2 separate regions of the Homo sapiens genome follow, and region 2 is linked to region 1. The links come from fine-mapping of genetic effects on gene expression. Tissue or cell type: breast. Region 1 holds a variant in brackets; the other region holds the start of a gene. All regions are shown on one strand. Distances are from middle to middle.

Region 1 (2,500 bases):
AAAGTATACTTTTCTTTCTTATTTTTATAACCAGATCCAAACACATTTGCATGTAGATAGGCATTTTTAGTCTTGAACATTCATTTTTACTTTTAATCCTCACTTTTATTAGTTTCGTATCTTTTTGTATTTCATTTCCCCTTTCAAGATGCCTTGAGTCCTTTCTTTTTAGGAATGATGTTGTGAATAAATTATTTGATAAAATGTCTTTACACCTGAGAGTTTATAAGGATAGTTTGAAAATCATGTCTGTAAAATAGGTTGATCTCACCTAAAAATAATACCATATAATTAAAATTAGAATTATTATTGTGTTGCTTATTGACTCTTACATATATCAAAAAATTGCTGAGTCTTATTCAGCCAGAGCTTTTACTTAGTATGATATTCATTCCTATATTTACTTTTTTCTCACCTTTCTCATACTTTCTTTTACTTACTCAGCATTTTCCTCCTTTCCTCCCTCCTTTCTTTTCTTCTTTCCTTCTTTTCTCTTCCTTTCGTATTCCTGGTCCATCTTAGCATGTAATCTTTCTTTATGAAATGGCATGCAGATAGGTCTACTGTTCTTACAGTAAAAAACTTCAAGGCCTCATGTCTTTCCCACTTCTGTTTCCCATTCACAACCTTTTTAGCTGATTCTTTTGGTACTTTACCACTATATCTTGCCATAGTTTATGTACCTGGCTCCTACTTAATTTTTTGTTTATTTGTGTATTAGTCGTAGGCATTATTTATCGACTCTTCTCTCTGAAAGATGAAAGGTTAGCTCTCTTTCACATTCTTAACTGCCCTTTTTTCTTACCTTGTCCATGTATTTCTAACCCCCTTTCCTCCTAATATGTTTATGTCATAATTTTGGCTAGATTAGTGTATACGATTTACATAATTATTACTCTGTAAATGCTTTTTATGATCTCTGAGCCATGTAGTATATTATGGCTATTTTTCTTTCTTATCTATTTGTATTTTTATTGTTATTACCTAAAAAAAAATTTTCTATGTCTTATCACTAATTCTTCCCTAAAATTTCCCACAATTGTGTAAACTTACCTCAGTATATTCATAGATATGAGACATTCTATCAATTTTACCCTCTTAAAGATGCAGAGATAATGCATTATGTTTCATCCCACCATCTTTAATGAGAAGCTTCCATCTTAGATTAA[T/C]ATTAGAGAATGTTAAAATACTCTGCAATCAGGTAAGGACGCTTGAAACTTCATTATAATGCAAAAGTTTTCTTTAACACAATAAATATTTTGAACCCCTTTTGTGTCTTGTATTCATAGGAGTTCAGATAGACCACTTTATTTACTATTTTTTATAGAGAGTGAACAGAAATCCCATTTCTAGTCACCAGTCCTTAATCTGTAAATCAGGCAGATAATCTGTAAATGATTGGTTGAAATCACATTGAATTCCACTTTGTGCCAGGGACTTAAGTTAACGAACAAATTATTCTTACAAAAAGGTATAAATGTAAGGTTTTCATTCTGCTAAATATGTTTGTCAAACTGTGTTGTGATTTGTTCTCAGTGTGTCATAGCTACCATAGCTTTTGGAATGGGCATTAATAAAGCTGACATTCGCCAAGTCATTCATTACGGTGCTCCTAAGGACATGGAATCATATTATCAGGAGATTGGTAGAGCTGGTCGTGATGGACTTCAAAGTTCTTGTCACGTCCTCTGGGCTCCTGCAGACATTAACTTAAATAGGTAAAAAAAATTTATTGTTTTTACTCTTGCAGATTTCTTTCTTTCTTTCCATATAAACCTCAAAAGTGTTTGAGGCTATTTCCAGTATCCCAAGTAATTTGTGAGTGCATTTAAAGTAAAAAAAAAAAAAAAGAAAAATAAAACCTCCCCAAATCCAGAGGACATGTAAGAAGAACATTTGTGGTAAGAGTTGCCACTTGGAGATGAGCTAATTTCAGCATGCCTTAGTTAGTGTGAGGAATTAACTAAATCAGGACAATACTTGGGCCTGTCACAGAGATCCTATGGAATACTTTCCTACCATTGTGCATTAATGAACAGGTTCTTTTCCTCTCCTCAGATCCTGTCAAGTTGCGATGTCTTCAGCCATAGTTACTTCAACTACCACTGATTTTGTTACTGATTCTTTCTTCCCATGCTACAGTGGTGATTATTCCAGAGGATTTCTCTCAGTCCCTATTTGACTCTTGTTACTATTTGTTTTCTTGGTTAGTTCCATGAGACCATGCCAGTTCTCCTTGACTGTGTATGAATCATTGTGTTGCACTGTACTGACAGACTGCCGTAAGTCAATATTAAGTGTTCAGTATCTAAGTGCAGGAGAACCTTTCTACTTAAGTACTCAACAAGTAGTTTGTTGGCACTTAAGTTCTATGAGATTTTTTGTTGTAAAGGAAAACATTATCTTGCAAAGATTTTGGGGCAGCATTTACCAATACTTTGTTCCTTCATCCGTAGGAAAAAGAATCTCAGGAGAAAAACCTATACATGGTAACCAATGG
Region 2 (2,844 bases), 86 kb before region 1:
TTCTTGGCCCAAACTGTGGCCAAAATAACCTATCATGCCAGTCCCCCGCATCATGGTTTGTCTAATCCGTAGGAAGCGACCCCGCTGATTTTCCTTTAGGTCTAGGTAATATTTCCTATTGTCCCTCTCGATATAGTCTGTTTTCAGGACACTGTGAGGATGCTCTTCGGACCCCACCGAGACTGGTGGGGAGGGTGCCGAGTGCTTCTGCCTCCTTCTGGAGCCTTGCTCTTTGCTGTGGCCATGCTCTTGCCGGTGGCCTTTCAGGCCCAGGTGGGCATAGTGCTCGATGAAGTCCCCTAGACAGTCCTTCAGCTCCGCTGCCACAGACAGGGAGAGGGTCAGTTTACTCTTTCTGATGTTGTCCTGCCGGCCTCTCCCTATCCAGACTTCGGCTATCTTTAGGAAGCGGCCCCGGGAGCTTTGCTTCACGTCTAGGTAAAACCTCTTTTTCTGGATGTCCACTCGTTTGGAGGCCAGCTCCTGGATTTCGGCTGCGCCCCCGGCCTGATTAGGGGTGGCTGAGGCCGCGTAGTGGGGGTAGTGGGAGTGCTGGGCCTGGGGATAGAGTCTACTCTTGCTTAGGCCAGAGCCCCCTACATTCTTGCCTCCGCGGCCGCGGCCGCCGCCGCCTCCCCTTCGCCTGGCTCTTTCCATCTTCAGCTGCAAGTAACAAACAGACACACGGGATGGGGTGGGGGAGGGGTGTTGAGAACAATCGCAGACGCCCCTCGGCCTGACCGCCCCGCCGCCGCCCGCGACCCCCACGCCGGGCCCGGCTCCCCCGGCGCCGCAGCGCGGGGCTCCAGCCACTGCCGGCCGGTTGGCGGCCGCCGCTCCGGCTCTGCCCGCGCTCCCCGCATCCCTCCGCCGCCCCCGGGGCCGCTCCCGCACGCCGCCGCCGCCCGTCCCGCGCTCCGCGGCCCCAGGTCTCCAGCCGGCGGGCACTCACATCATCTCTGCCATCACCGCCGCCGCCGATGCCCTTCACGACCACCGCCGCCGCCACCGCCAGCTCTCGGCCCCTCTGCTGCAGCCGCCGCAGCCGCCGCCCCCCGCCTCCTCCCCCGCCGCCGCCGCTCGCACTGCCCCCCGCCGGAGCAGCCGGGCAGGGGCATCGCCCGCGGCGCCCACCGCAGCCGCCCCTCCTGCGGCCGCTGCGGGGGCCGCCGCCTGACTTCGGACACCGGCCCCGCACCCGCCAGGAGGGGAGGGAAGGGGAGGCGGGGAGAGCGACGGCGGGGGGCGGGCGGTGGACCCCGCCTCCCCCGGCACAGCCTGCTGAGGGGAAGAGGGGGTCTCCGCTCTTCCTCAGTGCACTCTCTGACTGAAGCCCGGCGCGTGGGGTGCAGCGGGAGTGCGAGGGGACTGGACAGGTGGGAAGATGGGAATGAGGACCGGGCGGCGGGAATGTTCTCACTTCTCCGGATTCCACCGGGATGCAGGACTCTAGCTGCCCAGCCGCACCTGCGAAGAGACTACACTTCCCGAGGTGCTCAGCGGCAGCGAGGGCCTCCACGCATGCGCACCGCGGCGCGCTGGGCGGGGCTGGATGGGCTGTGGTGGGAGGGTTGCAGCGCCGCGAGAAAGGCGAGCCGGGCCGGGGGCGGGGAAAGGGGTGGGGCAGGAACGGGGGCGGGGACGGCGCTGGAGGGGCGGGTCGGGTAGGTCTCCCGGAGCTGATGTGTACTGTGTGCGCCGGGGAGGCGCCGGCTTGTACTCGGCAGCGCGGGAATAAAGTTTGCTGATTTGGTGTCTAGCCTGGATGCCTGGGTTGCAGGCCCTGCTTGTGGTGGCGCTCCACAGTCATCCGGCTGAAGAAGACCTGTTGGACTGGATCTTCTCGGGGTAAAGTGTCTTCCTATTCCCGTTTTCCCAGCTCCGTGCCCCGGGGTATCTATAGTGCTAGGCTTCTGAGACACGTGGAGGCGCTTAGGCCCGCGGAGCAGGCCCCTGGGCTGTGTTTGGGAGATTCTGGAAAAACAGACTTTCTCCCTTTTCCTTTCCCCTCTGGAGCAGCTGGGAAAGGCGTCTCTCGGAGCTTCCGCCATTCAGAAAGTGTTTCCCCGCCCCTGACGGCCCCAGCTTGATGTTTACCTTGCGCGCTTAGTTAGGATTGCTCTTTCTAGTACGGCCTTTATTATGGCAGAAATTGAGCCACTACAGGTCTGCACAGCAAAGTCGAGGGAAATAACCTGCTGTCTATGATTTAGCAAGTGATGATGGATATTTTTGAGTTCAAATCACTCAGTCTTTAATGGATTTTCTTTTCTTTTTTTCCTAGTTGAATCTCAGTTGTTCTCAGGCTAGGTTTGATATGAAAAATACTACTCCCTATTGAAGAGGGTAATATAATTCTTAGGATGCTAATACAGGAGTCTGTAAGTCGGAGTACTTCAGGCTTTTTATGGTTCGGTACATTTCTTTTTAGGGGTGGGATATTGGGATAAGTAGGACAGTTCAGATCTTGATGTCATTGAATAGTGGTGTCTACCTAAAAGGAAGAGGCTGGGGCACAAAATTATAATTTAAAGTGTTTACTTCAGCCAAAATGAGGACAGCTGCCCAGGACTCATTTCCCAGTTGCCTTGGGGAGTGCTCCTTCAGCCTTGGTTACAAGCAGGTTTTTAAAGGCGAAGGGGAAGAGTGGGCTGAGACAAAGTTGGTCAGGAATTGTTATTGGTTTACAGAGATACCATTGCTTAGTGATTGGCTGTACACTGTAACTCATAGGGTATGAGTTATCGTGTCCAGCATATGGCATTTTATGGCTTCTTGGTTCCAGTCTAGAGCCCATATAGCAGGTGGGCTTTAAGAGATAATTATCCAGCTCAGACCGGGAGT

Evidence for each region. PIP is the estimated chance that this variant, and not a neighbour inherited with it, causes the effect.
Region 2: WRN starts here. The variant in region 1 is fine-mapped to the expression of WRN in breast (GTEx, PIP above 0.99). The same link has a PIP of 0.9 or more in Th1 cells, activated naive CD4 T cells, adrenal gland, aorta, atrial appendage and blood mononuclear cells.

Annotation. Positions count from the first base shown.
Region 1 is chr8:31,118,707-31,121,206 of GRCh38, forward strand. WRN (WRN RecQ like helicase) reads left to right here. Exons shown (of 35, transcript NM_000553.6): 21 at 1,537-1,718. Among named protein-coding and RNA genes, the nearest start is that of WRN, 86 kb to the left of the region's middle. The variant T/C (reference allele first, on the strand shown) is at 1,170.
Region 2 is chr8:31,032,126-31,034,969 of GRCh38, forward strand. WRN (WRN RecQ like helicase) reads left to right here and starts at 1,685. Exons shown (of 35, transcript NM_000553.6): 1 at 1,685-1,848. PURG (purine rich element binding protein G) reads right to left here and starts at 1,231. Exons shown (of 2, transcript NM_001323311.2): 1 at 953-1,231; 2 at 1-663. The coding sequence starts at 657. RefSeq lists silencers at 1,213-1,262, 1,423-1,682, 2,653-2,722 and enhancers at 1,438-1,959, 2,793-2,842.